3 linked regions of the Homo sapiens genome follow. Changing the gene in region 1 together with any one later gene gives a genetic interaction. Each region holds a gene or a part of one and is shown on either strand. Other genes may lie near its edges.

Region 1 (5,140 bases):
TTTTAAACTGTGTTTTTAATATGTAATATAAAATTGTTTAATCACTTCCTGCATGTTCAATTGACTCTACTTAACCTTTAAGAACAGTGAGAAGAAAGATCTTGGCTATATCATAGAAGCAACGTACTCATTATATTTTTTGATTGACCATTGCATTTTGAATTTGTAGTCCAATTTTAAAGGGCTACCTTATTGAAAAAAACAACAGCATCCTTGATAGAAAATTTATTTGGCCTCCACTTAGTCACGTGCTTAACTGGAATGGAGAGGAATAATAGTGCCTACTAAAGTAGAGAAAGAAACAAGTGAAAATCACTAATATTAGATGAGGTACAGCAGTGCCTCATGATTAACTTTTTCTATTTGTTATAGCCCTTAGAAAGTGTTTTTTTCAGTGGGGCCATCTGATAGGCAACATTGCAGCTTTTTACTCATTGGTTTTGTCTCTCCTCAGAGTTTTGGAATAGTGACTGTTCAGCTTTGAGTGGTTCATGGTGGTGGGGTAATAGATCTCTTAGTGCTCATTTGTCCATCAGCAGAAGGTATGAAGTTGCACTATCTACATCCTCACCAAGGAATGCTGTCGTTCACACAGCCAGAAAATAAGATGTTTGTCTGGTAGCTAACCAAGCTTCTTGGAAGACAGACCTCTTGAAAGTTAATGTTTCAGTTACAAATCACTACCAGATTTTCTTACATCCATGCTGATCCTAAAATACTGAGGACATGGGTTTCTAAATATGTATCATTTCAAATGTTGCATTTATTGTATGTTCTAAAGTAGAAGTCTACAAATTATAATGTAACTAACTCATAGCCATTATTTCTAACCAGTAATTAAATTCTTTTGGTTTTTGTCTAGGTCCCAACAAGCATCAGAGTGCTGTGACCTGTTTACAGTTCAACAAGAACTTTGTAATTACCAGCTCAGATGATGGAACTGTAAAACTATGGGACTTGAAAACGGGTGAATTTATTCGAAACCTAGTCACATTGGAGAGTGGGGGGAGTGGGGGAGTTGTGTGGCGGATCAGAGCCTCAAACACAAAGCTGGTGTGTGCAGTTGGGAGTCGGAATGGGACTGAAGAAACCAAGCTGCTGGTGCTGGACTTTGATGTGGACATGAAGTGAAGAGCAGAAAAGATGAATTTGTCCAATTGTGTAGACGATATACTCCCTGCCCTTCCCCCTGCAAAAAGAAAAAAAGAAAAGAAAAAGAAAAAAATCCCTTGTTCTCAGTGGTGCAGGATGTTGGCTTGGGGCAACAGATTGAAAAGACCTACAGACTAAGAAGGAAAAGAAGAAGAGATGACAAACCATAACTGACAAGAGAGGCGTCTGCTGTCTCATCACATAAAAGGCTTCACTTTTGACTGAGGGCAGCTTTGCAAAATGAGACTTTCTAAATCAAACCAGGTGCAATTATTTCTTTATTTTCTTCTCCAGTGGTCATTGGGCAGTGTTAATGCTGAAACATCATTACAGATTCTGCTAGCCTGTTCTTTTACCACTGACAGCTAGACACCTAGAAAGGAACTGCAATAATATCAAAACAAGTACTGGTTGACTTTCTAATTAGAGAGCATCTGCAACAAAAAGTCATTTTTCTGGAGTGGAAAAGCTTAAAAAAATTACTGTGAATTGTTTTTGTACAGTTATCATGAAAAGCTTTTTTTTTTTTTTTTTTGCCAACCATTGCCAATGTCAATCAATCACAGTATTAGCCTCTGTTAATCTATTTACTGTTGCTTCCATATACATTCTTCAATGCATATGTTGCTCAAAGGTGGCAAGTTGTCCTGGGTTCTGTGAGTCCTGAGATGGATTTAATTCTTGATGCTGGTGCTAGAAGTAGGTCTTCAAATATGGGATTGTTGTCCCAACCCTGTACTGTACTCCCAGTGGCCAAACTTATTTATGCTGCTAAATGAAAGAAAGAAAAAAGCAAATTATTTTTTTTTATTTTTTTTCTGCTGTGACGTTTTAGTCCCAGACTGAATTCCAAATTTGCTCTAGTTTGGTTATGGAAAAAAGACTTTTTGCCACTGAAACTTGAGCCATCTGTGCCTCTAAGAGGCTGAGAATGGAAGAGTTTCAGATAATAAAGAGTGAAGTTTGCCTGCAAGTAAAGAATTGAGAGTGTGTGCAAAGCTTATTTTCTTTTATCTGGGCAAAAATTAAAACACATTCCTTGGAACAGAGCTATTACTTGCCTGTTCTGTGGAGAAACTTTTCTTTTTGAGGGCTGTGGTGAATGGATGAACGTACATCGTAAAACTGACAAAATATTTTAAAAATATATAAAACACAAAATTAAAATAAAGTTGCTGGTCAGTCTTAGTGTTTTACAGTATTTGGGAAAACAACTGTTACAGTTTTATTGCTCTGAGTAACTGACAAAGCAGAAACTATTCAGTTTTTGTAGTAAAGGCGTCACATGCAAACAAACAAAATGAATGAAACAGTCAAATGGTTTGCCTCATTCTCCAAGAGCCACAACTCAAGCTGAACTGTGAAAGTGGTTTAACACTGTATCCTAGGCGATCTTTTTTCCTCCTTCTGTTTATTTTTTTGTTTGTTTTATTTATAGTCTGATTTAAAACAATCAGATTCAAGTTGGTTAATTTTAGTTATGTAACAACCTGACATGATGGAGGAAAACAACCTTTAAAGGGATTGTGTCTATGGTTTGATTCACTTAGAAATTTTATTTTCTTATAACTTAAGTGCAATAAAATGTGTTTTTTCATGTTAGTATGCCTGTTTCTTCCACTGAAGTAATAATCCTTCATTATAAGTATTTAGGATTTGTCTATAATATTTAAATAAGCAAAATCTTGGTTTCTTTGCATCCTGCTGTGTGACATAGAAATCAATACTTCAAGCCTGTTTTATACCGCGAAAGTAAGGATAATGTGCTGCAACTGCAAATTTTATTTCTCTCCTAGACTATGAAGGAGGACACTCCACTGTGCTCATCTCTGTAGATTGCATTGGGGTGTATAAATATGAAATCTGGTTCCCTCAAAGAATCCACAAAACTTTTGTGATAATTACAACTAGAAGCCTTATAAATAACAAATTCATTTTGAAATTTTGACCACATATTAAGTGCTTACCCTCGATACTTTCTGTTCATTCTCTCTTAAGCTCCCACTATCCCTGAGAAGTAGGCACTATTATCTCCCATCTTAAAGACGAGCAAAAATCTGCAGCTGAGACTGGTTAGGCAATTTGTCAAATCATAGAACTAGCGGAATGCCAGAACTCAAACCCATATTTCCAAAGACTAAATACATGCTGCTCTTTAAGAAAGTTTGACAGACTAAAGCAAGGTTTGAGAGGGAAATAAGCCATTTTTCTGGTACTTTCTGACTGTTCTGTAGCCGTTTTGTTCAACAAATCTAAATTTTATAAAATCTAAATTTTATGATGTAAGGGGAAAAAATAAAGTTGTTTTTGAAACTAGTTCTAAATATATTTAGTATCTCAAATAGCAGGAGATATATATATATATATATATATATACACACACATATATATATACACACATCCAGTAATCTCAACTAACCAGGCCGTAGATGAAAATATAAAAGCTACTGAAAATGGACTCCCCTTTTTCTCATAGTCATAAAGTATGTGTTCTTTACTCATAGGGCAAATCCTGGGCCTCATTCTCCCAAAGCTACTAAATCAGAACACCTGGGAGTGTGACCCAAGAACCTGCATTTAAACTAGCTCACCAGGTGAGTTGTGGATACTAAAGTTTCAGAACCATTGCTTTAGATACCATTCCTGTACATTTGGTTATTTGGTTTATTAGTCCACAGCAAATTACAGACACAAAAATAGCAAGGAAAAGTGACAGGGTAAAGGAAAAAAACAAAAAACTACCTGGTTGAATGCAAGGCAAAAATCCTACTAGGCCGTGAAGTGCAGGGTCTTTAGAGTAAACCACGTTACTGCCCAAACCGTGACTACTGTTCACATTGATGACTGTGAATTGTCAAGAAAAAGTTGTAATTCTATTTGATAGTTCTTGAAACTGCTTGATTTTTCATAAGAGCATATAAATGAGGCTTAACTAGAATATAATTGAAGAGAAACATCCATTTTTAGAACTTTAGAGAATAGAATGAGTTCACAGGCTTTGCAGACAAATAGCCCTGAATTCATCTCAGTTCTAGTATGGTCTAGTTACTGGGACCTTTATCATGTTTCTTGACCTCGTGTTTCCTCATTTAAGATGTAGAGGATACCCATCTCCTAAGGTTATTATAAAGATTAGGTGAAACGTAAAGCACATTGCATACCGATGGCATTTAGAGCTCAGTAAATGGTAGCTTCTATTAAAAATTTTAAGTAAATAGACCCAGATAACTTTCTATATTAGAGAATTGAATGTATTTGTTACTCAGATTATGTAATAAAAATAGCATACACATACACACGTGTGCACACACACACACAGCAGTCCATTCTTTTACGTGGAGCCATCTAGATTCTCATTTGAGTTTTACAGAAACCTTGTGAGACAGACTGATATTGAGCACCTAACAGTGGTTTTGTATATACAGTCATCCTTCAGTATTTGGGCGGGATTGGTTTTAGGATCTCCCCAACCTCACCCCCATGGATATCAAAATTCATGGATGCTCAAGTCACTGATATAAAATGGCATAGTATTTGCATGTAACATATACAAGCCCTCCCGTATGCTTTAAATCATACCTAGATTACTTATAATACCTAAGACAATGTAAATGCTATGTAAATAGTTATTATACTGTATTGTTTAGGGAATCATGACAAGGGAAAAAGTCTGTACATGTTCGATACAGACATAGCCACCCTTTTCAAATATTTTTGATTCTCGTTTGGTTAGATCTGTGGATGCAGAACCCACAAATAATGGAGGGATGACTGTGTTTAGGTGTTCATTAAACATCATTTTATGAATAAATGAATAATCTTTATTACAATAAATCTTTGCTTGAAGGGAAAATGTTAGCATCCTTCTACAGGAATCAAAGTATAATTGTTGTAAAAAGGTCACTAAGAAAACTCCATTTTGTGGCCTTTTTAATGAAAAACTTTACCACCTCATGTAACTGTACATTTTAAAATCTTCATAACAGAT
Region 2 (8,970 bases), on another chromosome or scaffold:
ACAGAACACGCTATAAGACAATGTGACATTTATTTTAGTCTTACATTTTTTTAGACTCTTTTCATTATTCTCATATTTTGTATTTTATAAAATACTTTTAATACATAATCTCCTTTGATCCTCACCATAAACTCTTGAATTAGGCATGGTAAGTGTCAACATCCTCACCTTTTAGGCACTGTTACTAAGGTTCAGACGGATTAGTGGTTTTCCTAACACTGGCCACGATATTAGGCAAGACCAGGCCTAGACCCCACATCTCAAGTGCAGTTCAGAGGCAGCACAGCATGGCATGTACAAATACGCAAAGCCTGGAATCCCAGCTCTACTGCTTAGCAGGGGACCTTGGGAAGGTGACTTATTTGACTTGTACCTTGATTTCCCCTCCTGCCGTATGGCCATTCTGCCCAACAACACTTACAAACAGAGATCCAACTGCTGACCCTGTGCTACAATTATTTTTTGTCTCCTTTTAAAATGTAATTTGATGCCTTGCCAAGGAGGCCATCTTGTACCTCCCAATGTAAATATAGAGCAAAGCAAGGGACTTCTACAGACTTTAATCAACGCCACCCGCCGTAGTGGCCAGAGAGACAAGAACAAGCAGAAAGCAAAGCTATCTCATTGTCAGATAACGTAGAAAGCCTTGTATCGTGGTCTTCACTGAAGAGCCCTGGGTTTGGCTTGCCGTCCTGGTGTCCTATTGTTTTGCTCTCTAAAGAGGCTGGATTCTGAAACAGCGCCCCCTCCCGCCCTCAGGTGTAATTCACATAGTCATATTAATGAACTGCTATCCTCAGCACTTAACGACATCACAAAGTCGCACTACTTTAATTTCAGGGCTTTACAGTAAAAGAACAAAGATAGATTGTTCTATTTTATTGTTTCCAGAATTGGCAGGAAATATTTAATAATTTGTACCTGATGCACTACAAACACAATCAGAAACCCAATAACATTGCTACTTATCTTCTATCTCCAAAGGATGGATACAGATCTGAAGTCTGTAGTTCATAATGAATGATCAGTAACCCTTTGAAATGTGCCTAATGAAAATCAACAGAAGGAAGGATTGTTTGGATATTTTTCACTTTTTAATTTATGCGTTTTTTATTATTTGAAGTTGAGAGAGAGAGACAGAGATTGACAGAGAAAATCTCTGGGTGAGCAAATCACCACCCAGGTCCTTATTTAAATATCCAAAAGAGCAGAACTTGAAATTTTCAACGTGCAGGAGTTAAGGTTTTCCACACTGGCATATTCTCTTTCTTGCCTCCCAAGAGACATCCCATTAAATCCTGGAAAATATGACTGTGTAAAGGGGAAACATATTGCAGCCAAGTCTGTGCTCAGAAGTTGCTATAGAATCAACTTTCTCTTGCATTACCACATGACCCAAAGAAAATTAGCCTGGAAGAGTCTCACAGGTGAGTGAAGCAGAGATTCCTATGTAGATTTTCTTATCCCTGAATTTTAGATTGTGATATGTCCACAAGGACTGCTGGGACCTCAGTTTCATAGGCACAGAGGGCCCTGTGGGTAAAAATAGGTGGGGTCCTGAGTCTTCCCAACATGACAAAGTCAAAGACAGACACATGGTGAGTGGTAGAGCTGCCTTTGTGGCTGAATCCGAGAGAAAAAAATGGTCAACCTCTGAGGACTGGGAAGGGGCTGAAATGCTTTCCAGTTATGAGAAATTACACCCAAAATAATAAAAGCATCATGGCACCGTGGAGAAAAGATACTATTCCCGTGAAAAACTACATTTCTTCTTATGTCTGTGACCACCATGAACTCCTGCTCTTCCCCAAACAAATCTGTTGCCTTTCCCTTTAACTTTGAGCACCCCTTTGTTTATTTACATGGACTCCATTCTGTTAATAGTGTCTGCAGTGCATAGCCTCCTCCAGATCTTTAGTCTTTAATTAACACATATAGACACATCGCTTTTTCACTCATCCTCCATTTCCTCTTCTTAAAATATTGGTTAGGTCTCTAAGACAGTTTTCAGTTCCAAAATGTTATGATTGTTTCGTCAGAATTGCCAACCTCGGCCAGGCAGGGTGGCTCACGCCTGTAATCCCAGCACTTTGGGAGGCAGAGGCGGGAGGATCACTTGAGGTCAGGAGTTCAAGACCAGCCTGGCCAACATGGTGAAAACCCGATCTCTACTAAAAATACAAAAATTAGCTGGGCGCGGTGGCAGGCACCTGTAATCCCAGCTACTCAGGAGGCTGAGGCAGGAGAGTCGCTTGAACCCGGGAGGCGGAGGTTGCAGTGAGCTGAGATGGCGCCGCTGCACTCCAGCTTGGGCAACTATGCCAGACTCCGTCTCAAGAAAAAGAATAGGCAATCTCAACAGATTTATTTAAACTTATAACAATACCATGTTTTTATTGCCAAAACTAAATGGTGTTTATGCCTTAGCGCTCATGAAAGGATTTCCTGTGTTCTTTCATATGCTGCCTTAAGAGCATTCTTGGGATGGCTGAAATGGCTACAGATCAAATCGACTTCTGAAAACACAATTCATTTTGTGATTCTGTGCATGAAAAAGAAACAAAATACCAAAGAATATTTTTGCACAATTCTCAAAGCTACTTCTTTAACCACGATCCAAAAGCAGTTTTCTCTCCTATCATGTAATTCTTCCTGACTGCTTTTTCCAAAGAAGACTCTAATATTTGTGTCTTTTCCATATATCAGTTATTTTCCCTAGAGGGGAATCTGTGCCTCTGTTAAATGGCATTCTAGTTGGTCTTACAGACTGGTTAGCATGTTACAATCTCAGACTTAAGAATAAGAAAATCTGCATAGGAATCTTTGCTTCGCTCTTCTGTGAGTCTCCTCCAGAGAAACTTTCACTGGGTCATTTAGTAATGCAAAAGAAGAGTCTAAATTTGATTCTGCAGAGAACTTCTGATTCCAAACTGGGCTACAATAGGGTTTTCCTTCTCGCATTCATATTTTCCAGGATTTACCAGGATGCTACTTGGGAAGCAAGAAGGAGGATGTGCCGATGTGGAAAATCTTACCCCCTGCACATGTGTGCAATTTCCAATAAGATCCTTCAGGAATATGTATTTGCAGAACTTCTTATTTGACAATAAAATCTTGATCATTTTACTTTAGCCCACCTACTTAGTCCAAACGAATCAAGATACCACATACTAAGCAGCTTAAAAAAAAAAGAATATGATTTATTGATTGAATGGACCAAAAAAAACTTGAAACAATTATTAGAATATTCTATAATGGGTTCTGCCATCCTCCCCCTCAGGATGGATGTGGCTTTTAGCAAGAGAATTATTCAAAGATTTTTTTAGGACACAGAAATCTGGCAGAAGAGGACAGGAGCTGAGAGCATTGTTGTGTTAGGACAGATGTAACATTAATTGCCTTTATTACGACTTCACCAGCTTTTGCCTGTCAAAGAGCAGAACTAGGCTTTCCCGGCTGCTCTTTTTTAAGATTGTTCTTTTCAGAAGCATGGAAGAGGGGGCTTACTTTATCTCAAGACGTAGACAAAGGAAGTGAGATCTAACTATTTTTGGCTCAGTTTCTTCATTTAAATAATTTCAAATAATTCTAACGACTTCAAAGAAGATTCCGTTACCTGGGTGGTAATTACTCAAATGCTGTTATATTTTAAGTCATGATTTTGATTAATGATTCATTACTATTAATATCTGAATGGTGGAATAGGCTTGTTTTTGTTTTCTTTCCTTTTATAGAGAAGATAAAAATATATAGAAATAAGTTACCAATATACTCCAAAATTTCCATCACTGTTATAAAAGATCCACATTCCAAGTTTAAATAATTACAAATACAACTGTAAGAAGTTGCTATTGAACTAGAGTACAAAAAATACCCAGAGTATGTAGATGAGCGAATAAATCTTCATTTAGGGTTGAGGTAGAGCAGCTGTCTACCTCCTTTCTTGACTGTCTATGTTCTTCCAACATCCAATTATCAGAATTTGATGCAGTAAGTGATTAAAGAAACTTATCATGGGCCAGTTGTCACCTATCTCCGCAGTGTTGCCCTGTGCTCTTGGAATTGGAAGACTTCCTAATTCCTTAAAGTGAAAGGATGTGAATGATGCTCCTGCTCTCCCTGACCAGCACCTCATGCTTTGCAGTGGAGAATCTGTCCTGAGACCCAAAAGATAGTGGCCTCCGCATTGTGCTGCCAGGGCAGCTGCTATGTGCAACTGTCCGCAGCTGCAAACCTTCCGCCCTTTGCTGGTGCTTCAGCGGATGCCCAGGTCTCTATTGTCATTGCTGCCTCTTTCTCCATTTGCTTCCAGCTTTCTCCAGGTAGAGAGTAAGTATTTTTATTTACACAAATGACCTAAGTTGTTTTCTCTGTCTGGATTAAAATATACATGCAAATGAGACATATGAGATAAGCACTATCTTTTCCAGACATCACTGATGTTACATTGGATGCTATGTGAATACAAAACTCTTCAACCAAAGCCTTCTTCACTTTAGTTAAGTCCAGAGCAGACTGTCTGGGTTACATGCATACCTGAGCTAATGCAGCCAAGTAAGAAACACACACTTGGTTAAAATGCTTAAAAAGATGAAGGAGAAGGGAAGACAAGTCCTCTGCTTGGATATTACTAGAGGAGAAAACCCAGACTCAAACACAGATTTTTTTTTTCTTTTTTAAAAGAATTGAATTGGACCCAGTGACATCAACAGGAGGTGTCTGGGGGTAAAGAGAATGGAAAGGGGAGAGAAAAATCAAGACAACTCAAATAAGTTAAAATAGAAAGGAGGGGGGTCCAAAGTGAGGAAGGAGAAGTGGAGGGGACCAAGAAACAGGGAGAGAGACTCAGAGAGGAGAAGAAAAAGAAAAGAACATTTTGAGCAGCCTTGGAACTCTCTGTATAACTTCAGGAAGGGATAGTTTGTAAAACCAGGTCCTACCTGTTATGTTGTGTGTCTTATGCATGATTTTTTAACACTAAAATAAAAACGCTCAGCCAACAGGATAGAATCGACATGGCAGTTTATTTATGTCCCTGTTCTCATGAACATTAGGGGGCTTTTGAGAAGCGTTTGAGGACATTGGCAACTTTATGATAGTTATGTTTGTTCTGCCCCTCCATGCCTTTCATCTTTCTGTTTCTCTCTGTTCTTCCTTATTCACCAAACCCACCCAAGGCATTCAGGCGTATTATTTACTTCCTGAAATATGTGTCTCAAGTGTTTGTTCCACCAGCAGTGGGATAGTAGCGTGTCCACATTGTCCTTTGAGAATGAGAAGTCATCCTGGAGCACAGCTCTTCCCACGCTCCGGGCCCACACACCCAGCCTCACTCCATCAAAGGAGCCCCGCTGCCTGCCCACCCACCCTGGGTGCTTTCTGGCTTGCAGTGCTCTTGGCAGACATGAGGCAACGATTGCTCCCGTCCGTCACCAGCCTTCTCCTTGTGGCCCTGCTGTTTCCAGGTAAAATGGAAAGGTGACCCGGGTCTGGGTGCCAGAATCTCTCTGCAATGGTCATCTGAGGTATGGGAGTCCAGGCTGGACAGGGAGAGATGAAGTCCTTGGGGCATGTATTCCTGGTGGAGCTTTGGGTACGAGTCTCTGAACTGGGTTCATAAATGGCACTCTGAATTGGCTGATGGCACTTGCTTCCCAGGGAAGAGTGTCCCTCCCCGACTCCATTTTCTTATCCTTTTAACATTCCCCTTTCCCTTACAGAGAAGAACATTACATTTTAGGGAATCTTAACAACTGCATTAGTGACACTTGAAATAAATTCTCTGGCTGTGCTGGCTTTGAGGAGGTGCTCAGACTCACCATTCATGGCATACATTTCTTACACTTCATTCACCTTCTCTCTCTACACATAGGTGCATACAACGCATGTGCACAAACGTGCACACACACGGAACACTAGCACCCCTCCCAACTCCCCCACCCAATCACCCATGCTCACTCACCTGGTAGAGTGTAGGTGCCTCATGCTGACGGGTCTGCCAGGCGGAGGCCTCAGAGCATCCTCAGACGTGTGTTTCCACTTGCACAGGATCGTCTCAAGCCAGACATGTGAACCACTCAGCCACTGAGGCTCTCGGAGAACTCAGGGAAAGAGCCCCTGGGCAAGGCACAAACGGGTTTCAGCTGCTACGCCACGCAGTGAAACGGGACCTCTTACCACCGCGCACCCCACCTTACCAAGGTGAGTCAGGGACCAACACGTGCAACAAGTGCATCCACTGGGGAGACGTAGAGGGAACAAATAGACGGGAAGATGTCTGTGCTGGTCGGGGTGGGTGAGCAGTCATTGTTTGGGGAAGACATGGTGCGGGTGCATTGGGCTGCCCTGCCTGTCAGGGAGACCACGGGGTCTCACAGCTTCCCCTGGGGCTGGATCATTGAGGGCCTTGTGGAACGTGGGAGTATTGAGGGGCCAAAAGGCAATTTATCTGAAGCCACACCTGTAATTGCTGGCTTCCTCCAAGAACAGGTGCCAGAGGAGACACTGGTGGAAACATGGCCTCCTGCCAGGTTGCAGCCCCATGCCCTTAGCTTTGGAGGTCGTTCCCGTTCAAGGAATTTACTGAATACCTACCTACTAAGTTTCAGGTGTCCATTGAGGTCTGGGAAATGCTTCCTGAGAATGGGGGCAGAGAATAGACTGTATTGTCAGTCTACTCAGGCAAGGAGGTAGCAGGACATGGCAAGGGACAATTGAGCCCACAGCCACTCTTCTGGACTCTTCCAGAAGGGCCAGGCTTCTGGTCAGCCCCCAAACCCCTGGGCAGGACCAGCTTCAAATCCAAAAGGGCCTGGAAGAGCCTGTAGTTTCCAAGATGCTTCTTTAATGCCAAGCTGATTGCTGACCCTAAGACAGGGAGAACTAGGTTAGCAGATCAGTGGGCAAGAGCAAGAAAGACAGGAGGGTGTTGGCAAATTGCTGTGACATCCAGCAAATAAAGTCCTGCTGAATTTGATGCCTGCAGCATCCTACCCAACCTCCCATCCCTTTCTAATTGGCCCACAGTTCCAAAGGACTCATTCATCTGGATCTCCTCCCAAGGGAAGGGAAAAAGAAAACTCAATTATTACACAACAAATATAAACAGGTGCAATAGTAGGCGTGTGTTATTTAGTCTAACAGTATTCCTGTGAGACAGGATTATTCCTTCCTTTGGTTAAAGGAGATTTAGTGGGGCAGAGCTATATATCTGGAGTTGATGTTTTAGTTTGGAACTTGAAGCTATTAACTATGGAAAGCTGTTTCATATCCATGCCACCCCCACCCTGTCCCTCACGGCTCAAATGACCACTGTTTGATTCTGGAGATGGTCTTAAGAAGCTAATGTTGGATTTTTTCTTTTTTTAATGCAGAACCTGCATCAGATTTAAAAGTTGTTGACTGCAGGAGAAGTGAAGGCTTCTGCCAAGAATACTGTAATTATATGGAAACACAAGTAGGCTACTGCTCTAAAAAGAAAGACGCCTGCTGTTTACATTAAAACTGATGTTGCTGATATAGAAACAAAGCTCTGCCACTTACCTGTTCTCCGGGGCCACGTTGTCCAATCAGGTGCAGGTTTTTTGCGGAAGTGTCTGAGCAGCAGGGAGCGGAGATATTGCCACTTGTGCCAGACAGTTCAAATATTTTATTGTGGCAAGATAAATGACAAAAATGCTACCTGTGATCTTACAGAAGATGACTTAGCTTGACATGAACAGAATTTTCAAAATCACACAATTTGTGCTAGTAAATGTGGATATCATAAACTTTTATTAGAAAGAATTAAAATAATTTGTTCTTTTATTTAAAAACTATTTTTTGAATACCTACTTCTATTCTAGGTACTGTGCAATGGAGTCCATTCTATTCTAAGTACTGTGAAATGTAGTTGAGGTGTCAGGTGTGTGGTCAAACCCATTCTCCATCAGCCCCATCATCTCCTACCTGCAGGCCAGTTCGAAGCCCTGTTCTCTAGCAGCAGCTGAGAGAGTGTGCAGGCAAATGCCTTCTGGGGAGATACTGAGAGCTGGGAGTTACTGCCTGTTCTCTTTGTGCTAAACCTGGAAGAATACCCTCTGGAAGTCCTCTTGTGCCCCTTTAAAACTACCCATTTGTTCTCTGTGGCCTTAGAAGACACAAAATGCAGAGACCCATTTATAACCCGATGGTGCTGTGCAATTCCAGGCTTTTGGTGTCCTGAACAAAGAACTGGATGTGATACTCAGACAGCAAAGCAAGCAGCAAAAGTGTGTGAAGCGCAGTATTACATTCCCGGAGAGGGGAGAGTGGGCTGACTTCTGCCAAATGAGATTAGCATGGCTTCGGTGTACCTTGGGTCTTTTTATGTGTTTTTTCCCCTTCTCTTCGCAAGGCTGCCTGATCTTTTGCCGGTGCCTGCCTTTTGATAGATAGGTGTGTTGCTTAGTTACTTTAGCCTGTGCGGGCTTGTGAATTGTCTCCATCCCATAATTTTAACTACATGCGTGATAGGTAGTCCATATGCATGAGCTTTAATGAGCTGATTATCATACAGCATCCTGTTAAGGATACTTTTTCTCTTTAATGCGCATGCCTATCTCTGAAGAGCTGCCCCTTCCTGGTTTGATCTGGATCTTGCTGGCCATGGGGTCCTTGCTCTCTTCTTTATCTCACTTTTTCTTTTGGCTGCTTCACTTCTGCCTTTTATCTTGCTTCTTGCTCACCCACCCCTTCACCTTGCTTCTGTTTCTGCTTTTATTCACTCTATCCTTTATCCAACTTCCAATTTCCTCTGCAATTCTCCTGCCTCACATTAACTTCTAGAGATAAGTGATTTAGGAGCCAGTCCCCCAGGTGGCAGCTATAAAACTGTGCTTGAAGTATTCTCCTTCAAGGGAGAAGCTGGAGACCTGGATTTCTTGCTGGAGCTAGTCGAGAGGAGCAGGTGCAGTGCCTACCTATACCTCTGTTCAGGCTCCCACAGGTCTA
Region 3 (8,950 bases), on another chromosome or scaffold:
CCTTCAGCCCTCCAGAAAATAGTTATCTTAATATCCTTGTTTTCTCCAGCTGGACTTAGACATGAGTAAACTTCCCAAATTCGGGTTCCTGAAAAGGCAGCGTGTGCTGCAGCCTGGCACTGACTCCCCCGAGGAGCTATGGCGGGCGGGTGGGTAACGGTCTCACCAGGGCGTCAAAGATCCGCTAGGCCCAGAAAGCCAAGGGCAGCAGGGGATGGGCTGGCGTCACCAGGAGCGGAGGAGTGAGGGCTGCCGCGCGCCTCCCTAGGCCCAGCACCTGGAAGACACAGGGCGACGCGGGGCCGGGCCGCCGGGAGACCCGCTAACGGGCACTCGCCTGGGGTCCCGCCGCCTGCCTGGAGGCCGCGGGGCCGGGCGAGGCGCCGAAGCGGACAGGTGGGAGAGGAGCCGGGCAGCAGCCGCTGGATGGGCCGGGGAGAAGCCTCGGCCTCGCCCCCTGGGATGCGGGCTATGGCAACCCCCACGCCAGCTTCGCGTGGGGCCGCTGCCTTTACCTCCTTAGGTTTGAACGGCCCGCCCGGGGTAACCGCTAAGCGCAGCCCCGCCCCGCGCCGCGCTGTCCCGCCCCTTCCTCCGGCTCTGCAGCGCTCCCGCCCGGCCGCCCGCAGGCCTGGGTCCTCGCTTGAGCGGGAGGAGCGCCCCCTCTCTCGCTCACCCCTGCACCCGTCCCGAGGCGGGTCAGAAAGGCTCTGCTTCTCCCCATTCCCACTTTGGGAAGCATTACCGTATTTAGGAATGCTAACGTGGCCTACAGTGGGATGCCATTAGAAATCATGTATGAGAATGTTCCCTTGGAAATGATTCTCCAAACTGTCAAGTGCAAAAAGCAAGTTACAAACTGACCCCTTTTAGGTTAAAAATATGGATATACACAGGATGAGGTCTGAAAGGTATGAATAACTTGGATACGGTAAATTTGTACAGGATTATGTTTGCTTTTTAGTTCTTTTTATCTGTGTTTTCTTCTCATGTTTCAACAATGAATATATACAGATTTTGTGATAAAAAAGCTGAGCCGGGCCTGGTGGCTCACATCTGTAATCCCAGCACAGAGGTGGGAGGATCACTTGAGCCAAGGAATTTGAGACCAGCCTGGGCAACATAGTGAGACCCCCATCTCAAAAAAAAGATTTTTAAAAAATCTATTCATAAAAACCAGAGTGAAATGTGTTCATTGTTTACAAACATCCATTTTTGGGCATCATGAACTCCCAAGTACCCTCAAAGCCAAATAAATTTTTTAAACCCTAATTTTTTCATTCAATAAATATTTACTGGGCGTCTATTATATGCCAGGGACACTCCTGCTGCTCTTGGCAGCTTCTTCCTAGTCTCCTTTTTCTGGCTTCTTTTCCTTGGCCTACTCCCTAAATGAGAGGTCCTACCTCAGCATTTTTATTAGTTTATCATCCCATGCTTATGTAATTCTTATTCAGAACTTCAACCATCACTTTTAAGCCAATAACAGGCACTACCACCACTCTTCTCTGACTGGACATTTCTCCAACTGGATGTCCCTCAGTCATCCAAAACCAAACTCACTAAAATTATTATGAGACAGGGTCTCGCTCTGTCACGCACGCTGGAGTGCCGTGGTGCAATCTTGGCTCACTGCAACCTCCACCTCCCAGGTTCAAACGATTCTCCTGCCTCAGCCTCCCGAGTAGCTGGGATGACAGGCACCCGCCACCACGCCTAGCTAATTTTTGTATTTTCAGTAGAGACGGAGTTTTGCCAGGTTGGCCAGGCTGGTCTCGAACTCCTGACCTCAGGTGATCCACCTGCCTCAGCCTCCCAAAGTGCTGAGATTACAGGCATGAGCCACTGTGCCCGTCCACTAACAGTTATTAAATTCCAACTATGTGCCAATTACTGTGCTAGGTACTGGGAATACAGAGCTGACACAGCCACAGTTACTGCTGTTAAGGAGCTCATTGGTATAGAGCAAGTGCTGTAACAGAGGAACAGTAGCAGCACAAAGGAAAGAAGAACCAGCTAACTCTACTGGAGAACAGAGTGCATGAGATAGATTTTGATGTACAAGTGGCAATTTAAAAGGCAGACAGCAGGAAATTCCAAACTTAAAATGTATAAGGGCAGGAAAATTTCAAACTCAAAACAAAATGTGCAAGAGCAGTTGGGCACATGGAGAAGCTGCAAATAATTTGTTATAGGCAGAAACTAAGAGTTGTTAGAGGAAAGGATTAGAGAAAATTCCTGAGAAGTGAAGAAGCTAAGTCTTGGGAAGTTCTGGTTGCACCTTCAGAGTTTGAAGAGCATTTTAGAAAGTCCACTCTGGTGGCAGAATGGAGGACAGAATGAAGAGAGGCAAGGGTGGCTGCTAGGAGACCAGTAGGAAGCTACTGCATTTCTCCAGAAGGCAGTGGGGGGTGGAGCAGAACCAAGATGTGACATGTTCAGTTGGCAGAATCAACTGCATGGGGCAAGGAGTGAGGGAATGAAGAGTATAGGCTTGGGAGAAAATAAGATGCATTTAGTGTGAGGTTGTTAAGTTTGAGGTACCTGTAGGACTGTAAAGAATTAATGAATTACACATTCTTCAAGACAGCACCTCTCTGAAGCCTACCCCCACACTCCCTGGTAGAGTGAATAGTACCCTCTCTAGCTCTTCAAACAAATCTCTATTACAGCCATTTTACCCTTTCCTGCCCCACATTTGCAATTCTCCTGCAGAATTCTACTGAATTTTCTCTGTGTAGTTTACTACCTTCTAAAATCCCATATTATCTACTCATTTTTGTTTAATGTCTGCTCCCCATCTCCATCCCAATGTAAACAGGGCAGGGAATTTTGCCAATGGTTAAGTAGAATCCACATAACCCCAAAACCATTTAAACATTGCCCTTTTCTTTTTTCTCCAGTTAATTTATTTTTCTTGAGATATTTTATTATGTCTGAGGAGTGAAAGACTATATCATATCTCCTTTATATTGTTCAAGGAAGAATCATTGTCACCTCTCCCCACCTAAAAACGGGCAAAAAGACACCTAGTTATATGTAGTTTGCCTGAGCTTTACTTACATACTCCAGATTGAAGCCACTGAGCTGTAATTTCATATTCTTTACAGTCTTTTGCCTTTTTGCTTCCCTTTTTTTTGAGACAGAGTCTCACTTTGTCACCCAAGCTGAAGTGAAGTGGGGCAATTTCAGCTCACTGCAACCTTCGCCTCCCGGGTTCAAGCGATTCTTGCACCTCAGCCTTCCAAGTAGCTGAGATTACAGGTGCATGCCACCATGTCTGGCTAATTTTTTGTATTTTTAGTAGAGACGGGGTTTCATCATGTTAGCCAGGATGGTCTTGAACTCCTGACCTCAAGCAATCTGCCCGCCTCAGCCTCCCAAAATGCTGGGATTACAGGCGTGAGCCACGGTGCCCAGCCCTTTGCTTTCCTTTCTTGCATTGGGTGTCATCCCATCACTAATTTCAGAACTCTAAAACCCACCTGCTTGCCACAAAATCTGATGCTTCTTTTTGGGACCATCCAATAAAACGTAATGGGAGATTTCCCAAATTACCATGATATTCAAGCTATCTGGATATATTTAAGTGAATATAATCAAGGAAAAAGGAAAGACAGAGATTCAGGGAAAAAATAGCAACTTGCATCTCCATAACCTTCTTAATAAAGAGTTAAAAGCATTGTTTTCCAGGATGGCAAGACAACTACCCCCATTAAAACAGAGCAATGCAATGATGTCTGGCATGTAGTACATGCTCAGAAAAAGTTAATGCTATCATTGATAATAGTGTAGCTTACACTGACCAAACTCCCAAGTGATCCTAGAACTACCAGTCTCTGTTGATAGGAAAGAGCGTGTTGGATTGGGAACTAGCACCAACATGAATTCTTGTTGAAATTCTGGATCTTCTTGCTATGACTTGTCATTACTTTGCCCTTTTGTAGGGCCCCAGGACCCATTTGTATTCTACATATGTTGATCCATTCTGATCTCCATAAATTGTTCTGCACGAGAATTATCTTGATATTTCAACTGGAGAGTTAATATACAAGAGAGCTTGTAAATATGAAAGTTTGACTTTTGGGATCACTCTGTCATCTTTCGCTTAGGATAACAATGGTTCCATCTAATAGTTCTTACAGGGAAGCCTATTGTGCCTCTTGTATTAGATCACCTCTTTGGTTAAGAGGAGAGGTACTTTGTAACAGGGCTAATGGTTAAAATATTTATGCTCTGTTAGCCTGTCTGTGAAGAAAGAAGCCAGGAACTGCTGCGTTTTCCTGAAGGGTTTTTAAATGGCATCTTCCTGGAAAGATCAACTTAAATCTCTCAAGCTGGTCTGGGGAGATGCAACAGAAGGAGTTTGAACTTCTGGAAGTGAAAGGTGAAGCTCAAAGTTCTCAGATTTCTGGATGGAGGGCCCGAAAGGAGTATAACCTGCTTAATAAAATATCAGACATAGTGCGTGTTGGGAGAAAGAACGCCTACTTCTTTCACTAACTTTAAAATAGTTATTAACAATTAAGTTATTTTTAAATTTTTTAAAATAGCTTCATTTTCTTCACCCTACTAAGTAAAATATCTTCTGGAAAAAAAGGAAACAAATGTAAACGTTCTGAACCCAACTGATCCATCATACTGAAATTCTGATACTTGAAAGAACGCACCTCCACTGAGCAGGGCGTTTTGTTCTTCTATGGTGGAATACATAGAACGGAGGGCGGGTGAGTAGACAGCGAAAGCTACCAAAATCTCTTAGATTTAAGAGGGAGTTGTTCATGTAGCTACCGTCACACTAACCTTTGCTTTAAAACAAGTAAACGGATTGGGCGAGGGATGTGACAGTAGCCTATCAGAGAAGGGGCCAGAAAGCAAAAACAAAATCAAGAGAAAGGTAGGAGGCAGCTGCCCCACTGCCCCAGTACAGATATCAAACAATTTTTAAAAACAATCTGGAAAAGTGTTTTTCTACGTGAAAATCATTGGTGTAGTCGATTCTTCTATGTTCGTCCGAGTAACGGCTATCCTAGTACTTCTCGGACACTGTCATCTCGGTTTTTCTTCTAACCCTCTACCCTTCTGGAAAAGTGTTACTTTGTACCACTACATTAGTCAGAAACACACACCGCCTTGTACTTGCATAACTGTTAAAATGCTCTGCTTTCCTGCAAAATTAAAATAGCTGGGGACCAGGCACTTAAACCCGTAGAATCTAATAGACAGAAAGCCCCTGCTTTACCGCCTTTGCGCCATCCGGGTTGTCTGGCCACGCCTGGGGCGGAAGGGGCGGGGAGTAAGAGAGAGAGAAAGAGAGACAGCACTGTGCGTCATGTACCAGCGCCGGAAGTTGGTCTCGACACCTGGACTAGCCGGGTTGTATTTGGAAACGCGGAGTGAGTTTTTCCGTGCTGTGTAGGTAAGCGAATTGGCGGGTTGGGGTTTGTGGTGGATATTTGGGCCAAAACTGGAAAGACACTTGGGGTAAAAAGGTCCGGTATGGGGGTAGAGTTGAGAGTGGCTGGGGATACGGTCCATGCTATCGCTCTTTTCCCTATTTTCTTTTAGTTTAGATGTTTAGCCAGTAGGAGTTATTTCATTGTTCTTCCCTCGGTGAGCCTGTTCCCCTGTTGAGGGATATAATTTTTTTTGGCTAACTTCTGCTAGAGTTTGGGAAAATAGAACTTGTGTTAAACGAGAACGCGAGCTTTACAGTCAGATCTGTATCCCTTTGACTTTTAGTAGCTGAGTGATCCTGCGGAAATTAACATGTCTAAGTATCGGTTGCGTCCTCTGTAAAACAAGAGTGATGTCTCCTAGGATTGTTATGAAGATTATAATGGCCTAACACGTATGAAGTAGTTATTATGTCCAGTTTGGGGTAAACGCTCAATACTTGTGTGTATGCGTTTCGTCCTTGAGACCTAACCCATAGGATTTGGGGAAAGGAACAGATTAGGAATTGGATCTTTGTAGCTTTTCCTGAGAAAAATGGGCCCGGATGGACTTGTGAGAAGCCCTTTTGAGATATTCAGTATTTGAGTCTGTGATTTCAGGGGCTAACAATGGACACCCAGAAGGACGTTCAACCTCCAAAGCAGCAACCAATGATATATATCTGTGGAGGTAAGAGTAGCACTTACCTAAAGTAAGAATATTTTATTTAAGTTTTTTTGAAATTGTTACATTTATTCTTTGCTTAAATGAGTTACTGGTCTTCAGAGTTATAAAGTAGAACACTTTAGCAACCATAAAAAAAATCGTTGAGGTCAGTAGACCTGGGTTCGTCCTTGGTCTTCTGTTTACTAACAGAAAAAAACAAAGCTCGTTGAGATTTCATTCTCTCTCCTGGAAATATGCATGGCCTACAACCTTTTTCTTTCCTATTTAATATATTTAATAAAAGCAGCAGACCCTTGAGATTGAGTATATTTTAGTGTTTTGGATTGCCTTAGGTAAATAATACATTTAAGATAATTTGTCTGTAATATTTTCCTCTTAGGCATTGAGTAAATTTTTTTTTTTAATTCTAGAGTGTCACACAGAAAATGAAATAAAATCTAGGGATCCAATCAGATGCAGAGAATGTGGATACAGAATAATGTACAAGAAAAGGACTAAAAGATGTATCCTTTTAACGATGCTTTCTAAATATGAGTTAGGAGGAAATGAATAATGCTGGGGTTGATAAAGATTAATTTCTGGTTAAAATGATAACTTTCTGGATTACAGTACTTAAAAAACAAACATGATTAGCATTTTCATGGACCAATGCATAGGCTCTAAATAATCTAAATAATGCTAGTTGATTTTGGTTCTCATAAATTTATTTTTTAGGGATTCTGTGCAGTCAAGCTTGAGGATAGGGATACATTCTGAGAATTGTGTCCTTAAGCAATTTCATCATTCCTACAGAAACCTAGACCGTATATCCTACTATACATACACATCTAGGCTATATGGTATAGCTTATTGCTGCTAGGCTACACACCTGTACAGCATGCTATTGTACTGAATAGACAATTGTAACACAATGTTTTTGTATATCTGAACATAGAAAAGGTACAGCAAAAATAGAGTATAATCTTATGCGACCACTGTTTATATGTGCTCCATCTTTGACCAAAACGTCATTATGGGTGCATGACTACATTTATATAAGTATTCATTCTTGAGCTTCAGTTTATGGACAAGCTAAAGTTCACGAGGAGAAATACAAATATTGTGTATACTACCTAATGGAAAAAGTTGGGCATACAAATTGTTCAAATACTGAGAGTAGGCCCAGCATGGTTGCTCACACCTATAATCCCAGCACTTTGGGAGGCTGCAGGAGTTCAAGACCAGCCTGGGCAACATAGTGTGACCCCCATGTGGAAAAATAAAATACAGAGTAAATTGTTATGATACAACTAACACACATTGTAAATCGACGGATTATCCGCTTTAACATTACTTTAGTGTTTTTTTTTGTTTGTTTTTTGTTTTTTTTTGAGACGGAGTCTCGCTCTGTCACCCAGGCTGGTGTGCAGTGACGCAATCTCGGCTCACATTGCAAGCTCTGCCTTCCGGGTTCATGGCATTCTCCTGCCTCAGCCTCCTGAGTAGCTGGGACTACAGGCACCCGCCACCATGCCCGGCTAATTTTTTTTATTTTTTAGTAAAGATGGGGTTTCACCATGTTAGCCAGGATGGTCTCGATCTCCTGACCTCGTGATCCGCCCACCTCAGCCTCCCAAAGTACTGGGATTACAGGCGTGAGCCACTGCGCCTGGCCTGCTTTAGTGTTTTTTGATACATTTTATGGAAAAGGTGGTAATAAAAATTGAAAGTGTTTTTAGTTTATTTAAAAACCAGTTGTCATAGTAAATAGTGAATTCCATTCTTTTTTGCATTTTAAGTTAAATAACAAACCAGCTTATTGCAAAGAGAAAGTGACTTTGAAACCTTCAGTCTTAATAATGTTTAAGTACCGTTTTTGTCCTTAACTCAAATTAATACAGTGGTCGTTTTTGATGCTCGATGAATGCTGGGAATTCAGAGGAATGTCTTCACTTATACTTGGATTTGCTCTCTTCCCATTTCTGATTGTTGTATAGCTTTCGATTTTGCTTACAGTAGTTCCCCCTTATCTTCGGGAGATACATTCCAAGGCCCCCAGTGAACTCCTGAAACCTCAAACAGTACCAAACCTTTATACACTGTTTTTTCCATATATATATACCTATGATAAAGTATAATGTATAAATTAAGCATAGCAAGAGATTAATAATAATGTAATAGAACAATGATAACATACTATAATAAAAGTTATGTGAATGTGGTTGGTCTCTCTTGCTTTCAAAATATCTTCTTGTACAGTACTCACCTATTTTAGAATGTGGTTGACTACAGGTAACCAAAACCACAGAAAGGGAAACTTTGGATGAGGGGGGCACTACTGTACTTAGGAATACAACTATATACATATGATTTTATTTTTAAGACCATATTATATTTGGGTATCTACTAATATTTTGTATAAAGCAATTTTTTGTTCCATTACGTGACTTTTTGTTTTATTGTATATGTAATTTAACACACAATAAAGGGTAAAGTTGCTTCCCCAAACCACACTTTTAATCAAAACCTAGAATCATCTGCAGTCCTTGTTAAAAATGCAGGTTTCTAGAACCCTCTGAAGTTCTGATTAAATAAATTTATTGCAAACCACTGTCCTGTGTCACTGTGTCATTTGATATGAAGTATACCATTGTGCTTGGTGTCAGTATGCATATGTCATCTTGAGTTCAGTTTTTCATTTATTACTAGGTATAGGCCTTTCTGTATTTTCATATAATGCTTGGTTCTCTTTTAAATCTCAGAATAATGAAGGGAAACTTTAATTGTTTTCTGTAAGGCAAAATCAACCCCAAGCAAAGTGAATGAAGCAGGCTGTTAAGCCAAGTGC

The links. Genes that interact genetically often act in the same process or in processes that back each other up.
Region 2: changes in FBXW7 (region 1) and SPAG11B are lethal when combined (synthetic lethality), as found in Homo sapiens cells (one study listed by BioGRID).
Region 3: changes in FBXW7 (region 1) and POLR2K are lethal when combined (synthetic lethality), as found in Homo sapiens cells (one study listed by BioGRID).

The regions. Positions count from the first base shown.
Region 1 is NC_000004.12:152,318,872-152,324,011, reverse strand, and holds the end of FBXW7 (F-box/WD repeat-containing protein 7), read left to right. Parts: intron 1-862; coding exon 863-1,131; 3' UTR 1,132-3,468; downstream 3,469-5,140. UniProt on the Homo sapiens protein: Substrate recognition component of a SCF (SKP1-CUL1-F-box protein) E3 ubiquitin-protein ligase complex which mediates the ubiquitination and subsequent proteasomal degradation of target proteins.
Region 2 is NC_000008.11:7,459,938-7,468,907, reverse strand, and holds the start of SPAG11B (sperm-associated antigen 11B isoform D preproprotein), read left to right. Parts: upstream 1-5,365; 5' UTR 5,366-5,404; coding exon 5,405-5,465; intron 5,466-6,048; coding exon 6,049-6,201; intron 6,202-7,373; coding exon of another isoform or gene 7,374-7,501; exon of another isoform or gene 7,502-7,643; intron 7,644-8,970. UniProt on the Homo sapiens protein: Has antimicrobial activity against E.coli. Plays a role in the defense response in the male reproductive tract, contributing to sperm maturation, storage and protection.
Region 3 is NC_000008.11:100,145,291-100,154,240, forward strand, and holds POLR2K (DNA-directed RNA polymerases I, II, and III subunit RPABC4), read left to right. Parts: upstream 1-5,345; 5' UTR 5,346-5,419; intron 5,420-6,056; 5' UTR 6,057-6,065; coding exon 6,066-6,126; intron 6,127-6,533; coding exon 6,534-6,626; intron 6,627-8,003; coding exon 8,004-8,026; 3' UTR 8,027-8,713; downstream 8,714-8,950. UniProt on the Homo sapiens protein: DNA-dependent RNA polymerase catalyzes the transcription of DNA into RNA using the four ribonucleoside triphosphates as substrates.